Homo sapiens: one gene and its partners. The protein of the gene in region 1 interacts with the protein of each later gene in a pairwise test. Each region holds a gene or a part of one and is shown in the gene's direction. Other genes may lie near its edges.

Region 1 (7,848 bases):
AACTCATGAGGAGGAGACCAGATCAGGAGGGACCACAAGGACAGGAGAATTAGCAACGAGAGACTGGCTGGCACCAGTCTTGGGAAAACTTCAGAGTGAGCTCCATTCATGGTCTATTAAAAGGCCTTTGTTGTCATTCAGTGATATGTGCCTGGCCCCTGAGACTTTAATTCAACACTAGCCAAACTATCTCATTTGGATAACCCCCTTTTCAAAGTTCAAAAGACTGATTAGCCCCCACAGAACTGAAGGTGAGGAAATGGGGTTCTAGAATCTGGCAGGGCAGTGTGATGTGGAAGGGCACATTTACCCTTCCACAGGATGTGACATGGCTGATACTGGACCACACCACCTTGAGATTTTCGCCAAAGGGTGTTGTGGCATATTGGTGATAGACATGCTGTTACATGTGCGTATTTCCATTTTTAGAACAAACTATACCACATGATACACATGGATTGACACCTTGCTCTTTTCAATTAATACATCCTGGAGATGTTTTATATCAATACATATGAATCTTTCTTTCTTTTAGATAATCTTGTAGTATTCCATTATATGAAAGCACCGTATTTTGTTGGATGGTTAAGATGTTTTTCTGTATTTTACTGTCACAGAGTACTATATTGAAAGCCTCTGTGGATATGTGACAGTATATTTGTAGCATATTCAACTAAAAATAGATGAATATTAGGTCAAAAAGAATCCTTTTGGTCATCTAGAAATGCTAACCTCAAAATAGAATTATTGAAACAAAGGGAAAATATCAGGTGCTTTCTATGTATTAGGCACTATGGCTGGTACTGAGGATAAACCAAGAAACAAGTTAGACTTGCTCCTTGCCATCATAGAATTTTACATTTTACTGGGGGAGACAGACTTATAAAAGCCAACAGGCAAAAATTACAAATTACAGTATGATGTGAAAAAAGTAACGGGCTAGAGACAGAATTGGGGGGAACTTTTTTGATATAGTGGTCAAGGAAAGACTAAGAATGCCAGATTTAAGCTGTGTGTGCTTTTAAATTTTAGTAGATATTGCAACACCACCTTCTATGTTTACACACTCACCAACATCATCACCAATATTGTATTTTCAAACCTTTTGATCTTTCCCAATCTAAGGTGAAAATGGCATTTTATTTGTATTTATTATTAAAAGTAAGATAGAGCATCCTTTCATAGATGTATTTACGAGTCTTTTGAAATTCTTTTGTGTGTATGTGAACTGCTCCTCTGATAACCTTTGTCCACTCTTCTATAGCGTTGTTGGTCTTTTTTCTTAACTGGTCATAAAAACTCTTTAATAAATTAGATCTTTATCAAATATCTTGCAAATATATCTCCGTGTTATTTACCTTTGACTTGTTTTTCTGAGAGACACTTGACTGTAATGCCCGTTAAAGCCTAAAAAGGTTTTCTAACAGTGGCCAAACAAATATCTTTATCTTTCTCGCTTGGAAGAAGATGCAGCTGAGAAACTGACTTCTAAGTAAGCCAAGGTAAGATCGGTGAGCTTCTTTCCCAGAAAGATAAAATACACACCATGCAACAAATAGTATGTCTAATGCCTACAGTGGAATACTCATGATAGCTTTTTTGCTGTAGTTATGCTTAACTTGCCATTTAATGTTGCTATTAGAGAGGGACTTGGCCAATAAATCTGCCTTAAAAGAGATTTCAAGAGTTGGAATATGACTGCAGATCACTGTTGTCTCAGGGGAGCTAATAAAAAGGGTTACAACTTTTCCTTTGAAGTAGTTTTGCCCAGAGTATGTAGCTATGGATTGTGAAATAGAAGAAAAACAGTATAACGAAAATTTTGTATTACGTTTACATTTCAAGAAACCATCAGAATCACTTTATTATTTCACTCTGCTCAAGCAGGAAGTTGAACAGATCAAATAACTTGTCTTAGCCACTAGAGTTACACTGAGTTTTATTCAGTGCTGAGAAACAGCCTAAGAAAGCAAACTAGTGAGGCTGTGCTGATTTACAATTGATACATTTTATGAAATAGCATTAATGTTCTCACAGACCATCATTATATGACTTTGTGGAATTATCAAAAGTAGTGTTTCACAAAATATAAAAATCTCCCACTGGCATAAGGGGTCTAATGTGTATTTCATGTTTGTTTGTTTTAAAGTTCTGTAGCACAAGGGAAGGTGTTTCTTAACCTTAGCCACCAGCAATTTAGGGAGTAAGAAATCATACATTTAGCAAAATTGCTCTTTTTATTCTTAGCCTAACGAATTCAGCTAGACTTTAATCTGAATTTATGGGGGATATGTCTAAGATTTCACCATCAAATATAAGGGAGGTTTTTGGTATATTTGAGATGTATTTATTTTTGCCTTATAAAGGAATCATCCATCTATTTATTTTTTATTAGGAGTTTCTGCTTTTAGTCAGAAATATATGTTGAGTTTTATGAAATGACATTGTAGCATTTGTGGAGATTATATGATTTTTCTTTATCAGCCTAATATGGGTGACTTAAAGTTATAGGTTCCTAATATTAAGCTATAAATTTGTTAGATTCATTTGTAGGCTTTGATTGTTTAGAACGATCACTGGACAAATAACTTATTTTAAAACTCAGAGTAATGAATGAGACCTTGCTGTATACGTATAAGAAGCAGAGAGAAGAGCAGGAAGCATCATTACCAGAAGATAAGAACTGTAAATCTTATGCTGGAGCATGGTGACATGACTCATAATGCGATAGCATCTCTACTGATAATATGGAAAAGAAAGTTCTTATCTTGAATATCGTATGAATGGACCTGGCAGAAACATGATCACTATAGTTTACAAAAATAAGGATAATCCTGGAAAATGAAAACCTCAAGTTTGAAAATTGATTTGTATTTTAGTATTTTGTCTCTCCTGGTGATAACAGTGTTTTGAGTTATTCTCACCTTATCTACCCCTACCCCTCCCAAAAGGTACAAACAGACTGTTTAAATGAAAAATGCACACCTTGAAAATTTAAAAAAACTCTTCTTTGTCTAGCTACTTTAAAGGTTTTGATTTTCATGGGATATCCAGTGCAATGGCAATAATCTCAGCCTTGACAATAAAAGTGACAGATTTAAGAAACTAGTCATAGTAGGGAATTTTAGAGGGGGAGTAAATAGGATATAGTATTTACTTTCTATTTAAATTAAATTTTCTTTATGTTTATCCCTTATATAATTTTTGAAAAGGTCCTTTTCTAGATATTAAAAAATAAGATATATGAGTTTTCCTCTCAAGAAAGAATATTGACTTCTAATTAGTAACACATATTGACTAGATTTGTTGGCCTTATGAAAAGTTTTAAAGTAAACATATTTAATTTTTACTTTAAAAATATGCTTTCAAAGATACATTCAGACACTTAAGAAGAAAAGATAACTGCTTGTGATAATGAAACTGGTTGTTTTTTTTCTGTTATGATAATTTCAATGCTTGAAACACTGAATAAATTACACGTCAGTACAATGTTTTGTATATTTAATGATATTTCAAAGCTTCTGTCAACTGATCAGTTAAACACAAAAGTTTGTTCAGATTTTTTAAAGGTTTTTTTTTCTTTCTTCCAACTTTTGTTTTAGGTTCAGTGGGTACATGTGCAGGTATGTTACATGAATAAAGTGCATACTGCTGGGGTTTGGTGTACAAATGATTTTGTCACCAAAGTGGTAGCATAGTACCTTATAGGTAACTTTTCAATCTTCACCTTCCTCTCACCCTCCACCCTCAAGAAGTCCTTGTGTCTGTTGTTCCCATTTGTGTTCATGTTTACTGAATGTTTAGCACCCACTTATAAGTAAGAACATGCAGTATTTGGTTTTCTGTTCCTGTGTTAATTGGCTTAGGATAAATGGCCTCCAGCTGCATCCATGTTGCTGCAAAGGACATGATCTCATTCTTTTAGCTGCATGATATTCCATGGTGTTATGTACCACATTTTCTTTTTCCAGTCCACCACTGATGGGCATCTAGGTTGATTCCATGTTTCTGCTATTGTGAAAAGTGCTGTGATGAACATACACATGCATGGTCTTTATGGTAGAACAGTATATTCCTCTGGGTATATACCCAATAATGGAATTGCTGGGTCAAATGAGAGCTCTGTTTTAAGTTCCTTAAGAAATTTCCAAATTGCTTTCCACAGTGGCAGAACTAATTTACATTCCCACTAGCAATGTATAAGCATTCAAAGAGTTTATCTTATTCAAAAACTATAAAAACCCAGTTTGTGATACTGTGGGCAAGAGAGACTATTTCTGTTCTCTGTTGTAGAATTTATTTTGATAAAGTGATATCTGTTGCTTTTATTCCCCCTGAAACTTACATTGATTGCAAAGTGTTGTTGATTTATTTTCTCTCACAGTAATAGCCCTAATTTCTTCTTACCTTAAACCTTTCAATCCAAACGTATGTCCATTGTTTAGTTTAATTTTCGAAATACTTTGACAATTATTTTTGCCATTGTGTTTGATGAATTTCTAAATTGCGAAAAATGGCGAAGTATGTGTGTTTTATTTATGTGAGCAAAGTGAAAATGTTGGCTGTTTGTGATAACACTCAACGGAGCTGGCCTGTTTTTACATGAATAAAATAAACATCCACTTTAAAATGAGAAAACAAAAACAAAAACAGAAACAAAAAAAAAACCCCAACAATCTTAGCTCACAACGAAATGACCCTCCCAGCCGTCCTCAGCAGGCAGCACCCATGTTAGTCTCCTTCTGCGATGCCTAAGCGGCAGCACCATCGAGCCAAGGTCCTCCAGCGTTCCTAGAGCGGAGAAGAAAGCGCTCCGAAGAGCTAGAGCTGACACTCGGCGATGAGCTAAGACGCTGTTTCAGAGCGTTTGGGTCCTCTGAGGCCCCTTGACCAGGTGAGCGGACCCTGGAGCTGGGCCCCGGGCTGGGGCGGAACTGCGGCCTAGGGGCCTAGGGAGCAGCTGCTTCCCGGCGGGTGCAGAGAATCTTCCCTCGACCGAGGGGGCGGGGTCCGTAGCGGAGGTGTCGGCCCTGGGGCCTATGAGAGTGATGAAGCTGTGGATCTGGTAAACAGAGTACAACCTTCTGCTGCATATTTTTCATCCATTCAGCGCAATTTTAAGTAGATATTAAAGGTAGGCGCCACCGAGAAGGTAATATTTGAGCAGAAATCTGAAGGAGGTGGGTGGAAAGACCTAAGTGGCTTTTGCGGTCAGGAACTTTCTAGGTAGAGGGAATAGCAAGTGCAAAGGTCTTAAAGCAGGAGCTTGCTTGGCATATTTGAGGAATAACGGGGAGACCAGAGCGGTTGGAGCAGTGAACAAAGGCGACCTTTGTAGGGAATGATGTCAGAGAGATTGGGGTATGGAGAGGAAGAGTGTAGAGGAAATGAGAACTGTATCGTGTAAGGAATTTTGTCTTTTTTTGGTGTGTGTTTTTGGAGGATTTTGAGCAGAAGAAAACATGATCTGACTTATGTTTTAAAGCTTCTTTACTTGGAGACTCATGATGATAATAGATTGTAAGTGGGCAAGAATGGAATCAAGAAAACTTAAAAGTTAAGAGTAATTTTTTAAAATTCCAAGTAATTCAGGTGGGAGATAAGGATATCTTGAGCCAGTGATCAGATTATGATCTGCTTTGAAAATAGAGACAATAATATTTGCTACTGGGTCAGATGTAGGGTGTGACAGTAAGAAGGCAAATATAAATCCAAGGTTTTGGGCCTGTGGGTGCAAGAGATACTGGAGAAAAGATCTGAGGTTTAGCTTTGGTACCTCGTGTAAGTTCTTCAACTCTCCCCGTCTCAATTTCCTTCTCTGCACGAAGAAATTAGGAATAGTGTCTTCTTTATAGGGTTGTGTGAGGGTTAAATAATTAATATATGTGAAACATGTAGTATAGTTGTCCTGGCTCATTGTTTTATTATGCTGAGACATGAAGTGTGAGTGGGCATTAACAAGAAGAAAATTGGAGGGTTGGAGGGTGGTCCAAGCAGAAGGAATAAGCTGTGGAAGGGCCAAGGAGCAAGAAGGAGTATTGCAAATTTGATGAAATAAAGTACTTTATTAGATCAAAAAACAATGTAAACCATATTAAATGTTTTGAACTTGATCCTAAGGGTAATAATCAGCCATTATATGTAACAGGCATAGCAGGGACATAATAATATTTCATATCCTCCTTAGAATGATCACTGTTTGCGTGTGGAAAATAGATTGGTGTCTCAGACCAGTCTGTTTGTCACAGTGGTCTAGGTAGGAGAAGACAATGGCAAAGGGGATGAGAAGTGGATTGATTTGAGAGATATTTAAGCAATAGAATCAATAGAACTTGATTGATCAGATACATGAGATATGAAAGGAGGAAGGAATGGTCAGTTTTCTGGCTCAAATAGCTGGGTAGATGGAGCTCCTCCCAAAACAGTTTATCAAATTATTTATTATATATTGTGTTTGATATATTTAATCACATTATAGAAATGAACTCACCACTAATTCAGCCTCATACCCAGCCAGGCACGGTGGCTCATGCCTGTAATCCCAGCACTTCGGGAGGCTGAGGACGGTGGATCACTTGAGGTCAGGAATTCGAGACCAGCTTGGCCAACATGGTGAAACACTGTCTCTGCTAAAATTACAAAAATTAGCTGGGTGTCATGGCAGGCATTTGTAATCCCAGCTATTCGGGAGGCTGAGGGAGGAGAATCACTTGAACCCGGGAGGCGGAGGTTGCAGTAAGCCAAGATTGCGCTGCTGTACTCCAGCCTGGGCAACAGAGGCAGACTCCATTTCAAAGAAAAAAAAAAAACACATCATACCCTATATATACATATCAACATCATACCACATGTTTATTTATATACCAATACTGATATAGATACCAGTATATATATATGTATGTGGCATAGATATATACTGATATGGGTATAGATATCTCTATAGATATAATAATATGAATACAGGTATATATAAAAAATACGAATACAGGTATATATACCTAAACAATAATACGAATTATGTATATATATACATATGCCTGTATTTGTGTCATTATTTGTATAACTAGGGTATCTATATCGGTAAAGATAGGTAGAGATCTAGAAAGAGATTTACTATAGGGAATTAGCATAGGTCATTATGGAGGCTGGCAAGTCTCAGTATCTTCAGAGTGAGTTTTCAGGCTGGAGACCCAGGAGAGCAAATGGTTTAGTTCCAGCTCAAGCCCAAAGGCCTGAGAACCAGGAGAGCTGATGGTGTAGTTCCTGTCTGAAGGCCATAGGCTTGAGATTCAGTAAGAGCTGTTTTAGTTCCAAGTCTGATGGCAAGAAAAAAGCTGATGATTCAGTTTGAAGCATTTTAGACAGGAAGAATTCTCTTACTCAGGGATGAGTCAGCCTTTTTGTTCTAGTCAGACTTTTAACTGCTTGGATGAGGCCCACCAACATTATGGAGGGCAGTCTGTTTTAGTCAACAGTCTACCAATTTAAATGTTAATCTCATTCCAAAAACACCCTCACAGAAACATCCAGAATAATGTTTGACCAAATATCTGAGCACCCTGTGGCCAGTTAAGTTGACACATAAAATTAACCATTACAATACCAATCTTTTATTTTCTGGCTAATAATCATCACTTTTTTTGAGACAGAGTCTCACTCTGTCGCCCAGGCTGGAGTGCAGTGGTGTGATCTCAGCTCACTGCAACCTCCACCTCCTGGGTTCAAGTGATTCTCCTGCCTTAGCCTCCCGAGTAGCTAGGACTACAGGCGTGTGCCACCACACCCGGCTCATTTTTTGTATTTTTAGTAGACACGGGGTTTCACTGATAATCATCACTTTCTTGGACT
Region 2 (7,884 bases), on another chromosome or scaffold:
TGGGGAAATATTTCTCAAATGAAGCCGGCCGGGCCGGATGGCTCCCACTTGTAATACCGGCACTTTGGGAGGTGGAAGTGGGAGGATCCAGGAGGATCTAGGAGTTCAAGACCAGCCTGGTCAACAGAGCAAAGCCCTGCCTGTTTCTATATTTGAAAAAAAATAAGTAAATTTTTTTAATGAAATGATATTTGAGCACTCTGGAGCACCATACAAATATAGGACAGACTGAAGGAATGTACCTGGCTTGAGTTAACATTTATTGAAATTTTATATTGCAAAAATAGTACATATTCACTGTTTTGAAACTAGAAAGAATTGATAGGCAAGGAGGGCTGTCTACAAAGCACTCCATAGATCCACCATACTGAGACAATGCTTAATGCTTTGATGGATTTATTGTATACTATCTATGCATATGCATGTATTATATACATACATGTGCATGGTTAAATAGAAATATTTCTCCTTGGTGTTAATCCATTTATTGTTATGCAGTAAATCCCCAAAGAGCACATTTGCTTTGCCCAAGGGAGTCTTTTGCTACATACTGCTGTACATAATGAAAACTAAAAAATTGGCTAACTTTTCAGCCTTGTGACCTTGTGGTGATTCAAATAGAGGCTTCATCAAAGGCAGATTCAGAAATGAACTTGGTATGTGGGTGGTTATGCTTGGCATTATTGTTTGTAATAGTATGATAGGGATGACTTCAGTGTCCACCAACAGGGAACTGGTTAAGTAAACTGTGGTACATCCAAACGATGAATACTGTGCGGTTGTAAAGAAGAATGACAAAGACCTCTGTACTCATGTAGAAGAACTCACATATATTGTGTGTGTTTTAAGAGGAACAAGGAATGGTATAGTATGTATGGTATGCTACTTTTTGTGTTGAGAGAGAAGAGTAGAATAAGAATATACGTGTGTATTTGCAAACATAAATTCTGAAATGATATATAAGAAACCAATTAAAAGTGTTTGGCTGTAGAAGGAGAATAAGACTGTGAATGGGATTTGGCCACATACTTTTATAGGTAGTTATATTTAAAAATTTTCTGAACCATGTGTTTGTACACATGACCTTTTTAAAAATAAGTGAATGAAGGAATGAAGTAGGATTATGAGAAAGAGATAAGAACAAATGATCTAAGGGGCTGCCCATCTTTTTAGTACCCAGTGAATATTAATATATAACAATAGCAGCAAAAATTGGAAGAGTAGCCCCAGGAGGGTAGGGAGTCAGCCTTTCCTTTGTCTTTTCCTCAATTTCATATATTAAACAAAATAATCTGAGAACGATAAAACAATTTGAAATAAAAAATGTCTCCAGATCTCTTAAAAGGAAGCTGGGGCAGCTTTCTGTAGCGCACTTCCCAAAAATGGGCTGATTTACCTCAAGAGGCAGGGATTCTAGCCTACATGGGATACATACAGGAGAAAACAAAATCAGAAAAAGAAAAGATATTTAAATATAAATAAATGAAAATAACAATTCTCCCTCATTATAAAGGAAATCATTCTTTTTGTAATAATTTGGATGACAAATATTAAGAAAAATCTTTAATTTGCCACTCAAAACATTGTGGTTTGTTGCTTTTTATACGTTTTTATGCACATAAACCTTTTAAAAAGTAGAATCGTAGTATGTAGTCTTTTGTCACTTACTATATTTTGGGCATATTTCTGTGGCAGTAAATATATCCTGGCATCATCATTTTTAATAGCTGGATGTATATTAAGTTAATCACTGCCACCCCAGAGGTGAATTTTCTTATACACACATTTTAATGGGCTCGAGCAAACATTTTTGGACTGAATTCATAGAAGTAGAATTTCTGGAGGAAAATAATTTTTAGGGTTTTTAATAGAAATTTTCAAATCATTCTCCAGGAAAAGTGACTCAGGTTATACTCCCACCAACAAGGACAGAGCTCCAGGTTCCCCTTTCCATTTGTCATCTTTCCTGCCTTTATACAGAAAATCTCATTGTTTTCATGACATTTCTTTGATTTCTTGTGCTTTTGAATCTTTGTATATGCCACTGGCCATTTTTATTCTTGTGAGAAGTGCCAGTTTCTCCATTGCCCATTTTCGGTTGAAAATCATTTGTTTTTTTTTCTCAGTAATTTTAAAGATTTCTTTATAGTCTAAGGATACAAGCCTTTTATCTGTCATTGAGGTGACAAAACTTTCTCCCAGTAAGTAATTTGTCATTTCATTTTTTCTTCTTTTCTTTTTCCTTTCCTTTCCCTTTCTTTCTTTTCCTTGTTTCTTTCTTTCTTCTTCTTCCTTCCTTGCTTTCCTTTTCTTTCTTGCTTTCCATTCTTACTTTCTTTTCTTTTCCCTCCCTCCCTCCCTCTCTTTCTTTCCTCTTTCTTTTTCTTTCTCTCTTTTTCTTTCTTCTTTCCCTCTCTCTCTTTCTTCCTTTCCTTTCTTTCTCTTTATTCCCTCCCTCCCTCCTTCTTCCCTTTTTTTTCTTTCTTTCTTTCACTAGCCAAGCTCCAAAGTCACATTTCACTTAATTTTTATCCTGCCAAATTTGAAAGCCTTTTAACTTCGTGATTTTAGTGTAAACAGGAGCAGGAGAAAATGTAATTATCTAAGTCTCGCTGTGTCACCCAGACTGGAGTGCAGTGCCATAATCATAGCTACTGCAGCCTTGAACTCCTCGCCTCAAGCAATTTTCCCACCTCAGCCTGCCAAGTAGCTAGGACTACAGCTGTGTGCCACCACACCCAGCTAATGTTCAAAAATTTTTGTGGAGATGTGAATTCTTTATGCTGCCCAGGCTAGTCTTGAACTCCTGACTTCAAGTAATCCTCCCACCTCGGCTTGCCAAAGTGCTGGGATTACAGGTGTCAGCTCCTGCTCCTGACTGAGAGTTTAGTTTTGTTTGCTAGTGGTGTTCTTGGTATCTTTTCATATTTGAGGTTTTGGGCTAGTGCTGAAGTATTACACTCACCATTCGAGGTCTACAGGACTTTTGGTTTAATATTGAACAGATGGAACTGTTTAGTTCTGCATCTTTGCAGGTATACAGAATGTGCCTACCAGGAATCTGCTTTATATCCATTGAAAGCAAGAAATAATACAGTAAAACTTTGCCTGGCTAGAGGCTTTGAAAGAATGGCGTATTCTGGTTTAATTCTATTACTTTGGAAGTATAAAGGTGAAAAAAATTCAAAACTTAAATTTCCTGTTGAATGCAATTTGAAAATATAGCCAATGATTCCACTTTTCTTCTCTAGTAAGGTTGGACATTCTGATCTACTTGGTGTTTTATTATAGAACTGCTAGTGTGCGTGAGTCTTACATTGTGAAGATACTTTTTTAAAACTTGAGATGTAAGAGGATGTAAACGGTTTTGTAGGAGATCAGGCTGGATGAGAACGGACACTTGTAAACATACTTTTTAGACTAAATCTCTGATTGCCGCTTGTTTTTCTTATGGAACTCATACAAATAAAACACATTGGATGGAGGGTGCGAGTAGGAAGGAGATTCTTGTCTTTTAATTGCATGTCATTGTTTCATAACAAGGCAGAACATATGGTAACCCTGGCTTTGGACCTACAGAAGGAAACACATTTTTCTACCTGCTGTATGCCAGAGGTTCTTGAACACTTGGAGGGATTACTGCAGCACAGATTGCTGAACCCTACTCCAGAGTTTCTGATTCACCAGGTCCAGGGTGGGGCCTGAGAATTTGCACTTATAAAAAGGTCTCAGGTGCTGCTGGTGCTGCTAGTCCATAGACTACATTTTGAGAACCACTCTTGTCTATTAAGTGTAAATTGTAGAACTCTAGAAAAAAGCTTAGTTCAGTCTGGGATAAGAAGCACACAGGTTATGGAGAAAAATCATGAAAGATTCAACCCTTGATCCCAGCCTAGTGTGGATTTCAGGTAACAAGCAGTACACAGTGACATAACACAATTCTTGGTTTTCATGATTGCAAGTCATAGCCAGGTATCAAGTGAGAAATTCAGTTTCATTTGCAAGGCCTAGAGTGGCCTGGTGATTCTAGAAAAATGGGCCTTGTATTTGTTTTAAACCAGTAAAGAGCTTTAAGTGCTTATTAAATTGTAAGTTTTGTGTTCCTACTTATTTTGTATCTTATTTTATTTTATTTTATTTCTTTTGAGATGGAGTCTTGCTCTGTCACCCAGGCTGGAGTGCAGTGGCATGAGCTTGGCTCACTGCAACCTCCATCTCCTGGGTTCAAGTGATTCTCCTGCCTCAGCCTCCCAAATAGCTGGGATTACAAGCACCCACCACCACACCTGGTTAGTTTTTGTATTTTTAGTAGAGACAGGGTTTCTTCATGTTGGCCAGGCTGGTCTCGAACTCCTGACCTCAGGTCATCCACCCACCTCGGCCTCCCAAAGTGATGGCATTACAGGGGTGAGCCACCGCACCTGGCCCAAAAGCTTTGTGTTTTTAAAGATATTAGACATGTTTCTTGTTTTTAAAAGAAATCTTAACAATAATGTAGGAGAATAAGACAAACATTTTTCCAAAAAAGAGAAATTGTTGTGATTATTCTCTGTTATTGGAATGTCGGATACTATAGTCAGCTTCATTAATCATCAAGAATGCTATGGATTTTCCATTTTTATAGGGTCTATATCTCAGTTAAGGTAATACTTGTAATTCTTGTGCTCCATTTGAAGATGAAAAATATAGGCCAAAATCATAGACTTTGCATAGAAGCTGCATAATGAAGACAGCTCTGGAGGAACACATAGATACACACAGACACACATATATAAAGTATATACACATATATTTTTTAAAGTTTATTTTTAACAGTTTTAAAGCTTTTAAAGCAAAAGCCAGCCCCTCCCCTCTCCCAGAGTGGGCGGCCTCTCCCCTCTCTCTGAGTGGGCGGGGACAGCGGTTGCATGGGCAGCTTTCCTTATGATGCTACAGGTCCCTCTGGACATGCTGCGCCTGGCCACGCCTCCTTTCCCTTTCATCTTTCTCACTGACCAATGGGCTTGGAACATTAAGGCCACGCCCCTATTCTGCGTTCCATTGGTGCCCTGGTTACGCCACCTGTGGCTCAGTTGCACAGCTGCCTGGTAGGTGACTGGAGGCATTGAGCAGTGCTCACTGGTATTTCGCTGATGTGGCCCCAACCCCGCCTCCCTCCCCACCCCGCGATGTCAGAAAAAACACAACAGGGGAAATTGGCCGCAGCCAAGAAAAAGGTAAAACACACCAGGTCATGGCCCCCAACCCAGCCACAGATCCCCTCCGATGACAAGACCGGTGCCAGAGTCCATACCACTCCTGAGGCATACCAGATGGGGCCCCCCAACCCCAGCCCCTCTGGGCTCCCCCAACCAAAGCCTAGTCAGTCAGCCCCACCCCTTCAGCAAGCAGCCCAGTCCCTGCCCTTGCCAATCACCCCAGGGTGACTTTGGGCAGGTGACTCCTGGGGCTCCCTGCTCCATAATCAGCCCTCACCTCCTGCCACCCCAAGCCCAACCTCCCTGGGCTCTTTGGGCTTGCGTCTCCCAGGACCTGGGTCCCCCAGCCCCAGGCCCTGCCCTCACCAGTCATCCCTGGGTGGCTTTGGGCTGGTGACTCCCGGGGCTCCCTACTGCAGACTCTGCCCTCCCCTCCTGCTGCCCCAAGCTCGACCTCCCTAGGCTTCTTGGGCTGGCGTCTCTGAGGACCTGGGTCGAAACCGTGTGTTTCCCTCCCCCATCGTGGAGCAGCGACTCGGGCATCGCGCTGATGTGGTCCCCTCCCCTGGGAGGAGTGGAATGCAATGATGTCACAGTGCCCCTAGGAACTGTCATTACTGCTGCAAGACCGGCCTTTGATCTTACAACCCAGTCCCCTAAGTTTTCTCACCCCATTTCTGGTTCCTCTGGTTGCAGCACAAATTTCCAGCTGGAAGGGGAGTGGAGACTATGGGACCTAGGAGCAAGAGGTTTCAGGCTGCCTTACTCCCTTAACATAGACATTGACAGTGGGAAAAGCCTACACTTCCCCTGTGAGCTCAAAATGTTCACAGTATCTCTGGGTGGCAATGGGAGAATGGGTTTGGTTTGGTTTTTTCCCAGGCTTCTACTTTCCAGAGAGACTTTAACATTTTTTTCTGAGTTCTCCACGGTTCTGGGACCAGACTGCCCTTCAGTCAGTGGCCTCTGAAGTGAGATTTGCTCATCTTCTGTGGAATAGATCTTGGGAAACTGAACTTGACAGCTTGAATCTTCCTCATATCGTCTCAACCTGGGGTACTTTGAGTGCCACAGGATAAATGCGGGACATCTTTCTGAAGCATCATTTTCCCTTGATTCTCTTGAGAAAATGCATTAATGTACTTAGGGATGACAGACACATAGGTTTCCAAGCGTATACCAGACTTCGCTCTGAAATGAGGCTTGGGTTGTCCTCTTTCTGATAAATTCCCAGATTTAATAGAAAAGCTGCCTTCTGCCATGAGGACACATTGATATGAAAGTGTGAGAGGTACTGGTACGCTTCTTCACGCTAGCAGACCTGTGAGGATGTATGACTCTAAACCACACGGCCTACAGTTCCTGCCTGCTTAATGTGTGCTTTTCTACCTCTGCCCCTGGTTTTGGTCCCTGGAAGCTGCTGATTCATGGCAAAACCCCAGAGCTTGGAGTCAGAGGACTGAGTTTAAGTTCCAGTATTGCCTTTTTTGATCTTTCTTTTTTTTTTTTTCTATCCATGATATCAATCCCTCTCAGTCACTAAGTGATTGTGACAACACCTTGTACAGTTGTTGGTGGCATTACATCAGATGGTATATAAGGGTATTTTGTCAAAACTGTAAAGGAGGATGTGGCTGTAGGGGCTGATCATTCTCATGAGTGTTACTGCTCTTCTTTCCCACAGTTAAAAGCATATTGGCAGAGGAAGAGCCCTGGCATTCCAGCAGGAGCTAACAGGAAAAAGAAAATCAATGGCAGTAGCCCTGACACATTCACTTCTGGTGGTTACCACTCACCTGGGGATGTGAGTCTCGGCGGGCCAGGCTCCTGGGGACAGGGAGCCCAAGGGGCAGTAGAGGGTAATTGTTAAGATTGTAGATGGACTGTTGGGTACTGGTTAAGAATTCTGGATTTGAATCCTGCCTCTCCGTCTGCTAAGAATTGATTAGGGATTGATTAGCATATGATTTAGGGCAAGTTGCTTGAGGTCTTTGGGCCTCTCTTTTCACATCTGTATAATAGAGGTGGTATTTTTTGACTTCCATTTGTGAAGTTTAAATGAGATTCGTTATTGTTGCTTTTATGTGAATCCTTAGTACATGGCCTGCTGCAAACACCCAGGACACCGAGGAAATGGTCGTTGCTGTTTGATTTTCCTCATCCCCAGTCTCAAGGGGAAGCCAGGCCAATGAGAAGAGCCACTTGCCATCAGGCTGTCCCTTTAGGAGTCACTGAAAGGGCCCCAGGGTGGGATGGTGGGGAGATAAGAACCACGAGAGAAGTTGGCACAAAGGAGTTATGGGAAAAAGGTTCCAAGATAGGCAGAAAAGAAGCTTTTGCCAGTTGATGGGGGAAGAAAGGAAGTCAGAGGGCTTAGACAGTGAGGGGGGACAGAACATCTCCATGTGCACTCTCATCTCTTGGAGTCAGCAACAGGTATCTACGGGGAGGGCCGTGCATCCTCTACTACCCTGCAGGATCTGGAGGTAAGAGGCCCTGGGCCGAGGTGCAGTGACCCTGCAGGCCAGCCCTCCAACCTCCTCCCACAGCAGGGGCTTGTTGCCCCTCTGCCAGCTGAGGCAGCCCACACACCCCCACCAGCCCTAATGATTATTCTCTCTACCCCTCCCCACAATCTTTCTCCAACTCCTTCTCTCTGCATGCACCTCAGAGCCAGTACCAAGAA
Region 3 (4,139 bases), on another chromosome or scaffold:
ATTCGGATTCATTTTTTCACCCACCAGCCTTTATCGGCAAACATTAACTGAGCATCTGTTACGTGCCTAGCACCAGCTGGATGCTGGGAGTTCAGCATGCAGAGCCTTGGCCTCTGTCCTCCGGAGCTCCCAGTCTAGCAGGCAGACACAGACCCCTAGAGCAGCATTTCCAGCAGGGGAGGACACCTGCCATCGTGGAGGCACAAGCCTGGGGCAGGGAGGCCAGGAGAAGGCACCCCCAGCTTCCTGGCAGTCTCAGGAAGGCCCGCGGCTCTTCACTGCTATTGTGCTGTTGTCATTGTCAATTGCCAGCTGCGCGGCTGTCTCTCCTTTCGGAGCTTCCGGGCAGCATACCCACTCCAGCTCTCCGCTTCCCTCCTTTCAGTCGCTGGCCTTTGCTCTGTCCAGTGGACAGCCAGTGCCTCCCCTGACCGGGCAGAGGGCCTGTGGGATGATGGGTATTGGCCAGAGAGGCTCTGGGAACAGATGTGTCATTGGGCCAAATGGAAATCATGATTCAACCAAAGTTCTTGGTCACTGGGTCACCCTGGTCCCTGTTCTCCCTGCGGTCATCATGGCCTCCTCCCTTTGCCCTGCACCATTGTCCTGACCTCAGGTTCAGTGTCCACTAGCATGATTGCTACTTATTTGTCATTGTGCCCATGCAGACAGCTGTCGGAGGAAAATGCTAACCTCCAGGAATATGTTGAGAAGGAAACCCAGGAGAAGAAGAGATTGAGCCGAACCAATGAAGAGCTGCTTTGGAAGCTCCAAACTGGGGACCCGACCAGTCCGATTAAACTCTCGCCCACATCTCCCGTTTACCGCGGCTCCTCCTCGGGGCCCTCCTCTCCGGCCAGAGTCAGCACAACACCCAGATGACGCCACTACACGGCCTGCGGGAGCTCCGGCTTCTCGTCCTCCGGTCTCCACCCTGAGGGAGCACCGACCCGGTGCCGCCGGAGCTGGCCCTGTGCGCATGCTCAGTAGCTGCGAATGCATCCTAGGCGCGTCCTCCTCTGATCCCCGTGTAAGACTGCCCTGGTGTCGGCACTTAGGAATGTGTAAATGGTAAAGTCTGATGTGCAAACGTTTTACCATAGTTAGAGCCAAAAGAAAGACACTTGCAATTGTTCTTGAGCAATGAACTTTCACTGCAGAATTTCAGGTTAGTTACAAAAAGCTCAGTTTTCAATATACATTGAATAATCATTGTGTACTGCACCGATATGTGTGTATATTTAGATATACGTATATACACATGCTGCGGTTCTGAATTTCATTTTTTATAACATGAAGTGCTGACATATTTTAGTGAAGGTCAGCAGTTTTCTAACTTGTGCCTAAGAATTATTGGGAAATGAAAATGCATTTCTATCTAGCTTCCCAGGAATATTTCTACCCAAAATAGAAAAAGGAAAAAAAAAAAGATACAGAGAAGAAGCGCCTTTCAACTCACCACCAAGTGGTACTCTCTTTAACACGAACACCAGCTATTTGTGAACGGTAACTGCCTTTGGAACAATCAGCTTCTCAGTCAACATGATGTGAGATCACTATTATTCCATTCGCAAGTTTTAATTATTGATACTCCTGTCATGAGCGGATAAGGGAGAGCAGTGGGAAACCCTAAGGGGGTTTAGCAGTTTTGCAGATGTTACCCATGACAGTGACTCATCTCTGATAGTCTTGTAAACACAAGTTTTGCTTTTTTCCTAAATGGCATCTCAGACTCGGTCATTAAGCTATTGTTGCACCCTCCGGAAAACATGGCAGAGCATGACCTTTGAGTAAGAGTGAGGATGACCTTGCAGATGACTGTGCCCATTCGCGCTCCATCCTCATGAAGGAAATTGCTGCCAAGGTCTGTATTTTGACCAGGCACAGAGGGGGAACATCACTCCAGCTTTCCATGTGGTTCACTCTGATGCGATGCTGTAAATGATCAACTCTTTGAAATAGGACCCTCAGGCCCCCATTTCCTAGCAGCCCCCCTTCAGTTTGGTTCTACAACTCAACCCCTTCACTGCACATTGAGATGGCTCAGGGGTTCTAGCAGGGGCTTCCAGAAAAAAAAAACACCATTTCTGTCCCGGGGGACCAGTTCTGAGCTGTGCTAGATCATCACACGACCACCCAGAAACCCACTTGCACTTCCTGCTGGATGATCAGGCAACGCTGCTGCTGACCGTGCTCCCATCTTAGACCCAGAAGGTTCTCCCAAACAGAGGAGCCCAGTGAAACAGCCAGCCAGGGGGCACCAGCTCCTGGACTGGCATCTGTCTCTAAAATGGTAGAATTAGGATATGAACAGTACTCATGTAGTGGTGTGGAAGATTAGGAGCATGATACACAAAAGGAAGAAGTAGTTTTAACAGATATGGTGATGATGATGATGCCCTTGTTTCCTGTATGTGACAAAGACCCTGCACTTTCTCCCTGAGACCCCCCCAAAATTGTCCTGAGCACAGGCCTGTCTTTGAGCGTGCCCAAGGCGAGAAGAACCATGAGGGGGTCCTGCAGGGGCCGGAGCCATGGAACGGGGAAGAAAACAGCCCGCGGACGGGGTCGGCTTGTCCAGGGCACGCCTGCTCGGCACACGTGTTGCCAACGTGAAGGCAGACATGGTCCCTGGCCCTAGGATGAGTCCACGCTGGGCTTCCGGGCCTCAGGTGCATCTCCAGCCAACCTCCAAGGGTCTTGCTCCTTCTGGGGACGTACACAGTAAATCCACATGGAAACACCACCATTTCTCTTTGCTTTAGTGGCTCTGCATGATACTGTGATATTGAGTTGGGCATTCCATTAGAGTAGATCTTGCCACATTGACTAAATACACAAGTATTTATTCTAGTAGCAGGCACAACCTGCAAACACAAATTCAGTTACAGCTTAGCTGTCCGAATTAGGAACCGCTTACATAGCCGCACCTGCTAAATGCAGTTACACAGCAATACTGACTTCCGTGTGATGCTAGAACGTGGTACAGTGTATTAGGCTGCTGTGGTCAGAGTTGTAGCATCGTTAGCACTAAGTAATTCCTCATTAGGTGGACTTCGGTGAGAGCTTTGCCCTAACCTGCCCTGACCTTGGGTACTTGAGCTAATTTCCACGTGGCCCTGGCTTCGTGGTTTGTTTGTTTTTTTTCTTTTGTTACGGACACCCATCATGTATGGCTCCTCATCTGAGCCATCACCGCTCCCGAAACACATGGGGCGGCAGCTGCTGTGCCTCCTTCTCAATTCTTCCACCCCCCCACACCATCAGAATTCGGATTTCTCTCCACGTGGCGTCTGCCTCTGTCCCCTTCCAGGCTGGAGCGACGTTTCCACGTTCGGATGCTGCAGCCTCTGCACCTGCCTCAGACAGACCCACCAGATACCACCTGTCTCTTCGTGGCATTTGGGAGATGCGTGGGCGGCCTGCCCCCCGACCGCCGCCCCTGCCCACCACATGCTGGGACAAGGTTCTGGCTGGATGTCAGAATGGATGGGGGTGGGGGCAGCCCTGGCCGTGATTAGTTGAATGAATGGGGTCACAACATCCCTTTTCCTGCCCCTACAGTTTGTGTTGCATATTTGTGTTTAAAGCCTATTAAAATAAACTTGAGGGACTTTCTGCGATATCTACTTGATGTAACTGGAGACCTGTCCCTCTCAGGCTGGGGATCCCAGGCAGGGAGGCAAGGGGGGTGGCGTTTGCAGGCTGGACCCCTTTTCTGTGTGTGCCGGGGTTGGGTGATGGTCCGTGAGAGAAGTCTTGTAGAGACCCCCTCTCCCCTGACTCCGCAGGTCCCAGGTCCCTGCGCCCACCCCTCCAGCCTGGGGGCTTGAGCAGCCCCTCCCCTGGACTTGGGAGCTCAGTGCCTCTGCTCTGCAAGGCCGGGTGCGCTGGAGTTGGCTGGAAGGAGGACATAAAAGGTCATTCACTCATTTCAACCTGAAAGTGCTTGCTCCCCCCATCCCGATGGCCTTCAGTTTGGGCTGCAGCCGGTTTAGCCAGCTGGACCTCGAAGTGTCCCACAGGTGTCTGGCACCATCACAAGGGAGACAGCTGGGTTCGCAGGTTCCCTGTGGTGGTTTTGCAGGGTCTGTGGGAGTGGCAGCTATTTCAGCGAGATCAGCAAGTCCCTCCTGAAC

Evidence for each region.
Region 2: the proteins of ZSCAN26 (region 1) and GOLGA6L9 interact in binary tests that used the Homo sapiens proteins (3 or more experiments, as listed by UniProt).
Region 3: the proteins of ZSCAN26 (region 1) and MTUS2 interact in binary tests that used the Homo sapiens proteins (3 or more experiments, as listed by UniProt).

What each region holds. Positions count from the first base shown.
Region 1 is NC_000006.12:28,262,320-28,270,167, forward strand, and holds the start of ZSCAN26 (zinc finger and SCAN domain-containing protein 26), read left to right. Parts: upstream 1-4,823; 5' UTR 4,824-4,894; exon of another isoform or gene 4,895-5,134; intron 5,135-7,848. UniProt on the Homo sapiens protein: May be involved in transcriptional regulation.
Region 2 is NC_000015.10:82,424,948-82,432,831, forward strand, and holds the start of GOLGA6L9 (golgin subfamily A member 6-like protein 9), read left to right. Parts: upstream 1-4,868; 5' UTR 4,869-5,132; coding exon 5,133-5,216; intron 5,217-5,835; exon of another isoform or gene 5,836-5,947; intron 5,948-6,882; coding exon 6,883-7,002; exon of another isoform or gene 7,003-7,624; coding exon 7,625-7,684; exon of another isoform or gene 7,685-7,869; coding exon 7,870-7,884.
Region 3 is NC_000013.11:29,502,325-29,506,463, forward strand, and holds the end of MTUS2 (microtubule-associated tumor suppressor candidate 2), read left to right. Parts: intron 1-668; coding exon 669-882; 3' UTR 883-3,623; downstream 3,624-4,139. UniProt on the Homo sapiens protein: Binds microtubules. Together with MAPRE1 may target the microtubule depolymerase KIF2C to the plus-end of microtubules. May regulate the dynamics of microtubules at their growing distal tip.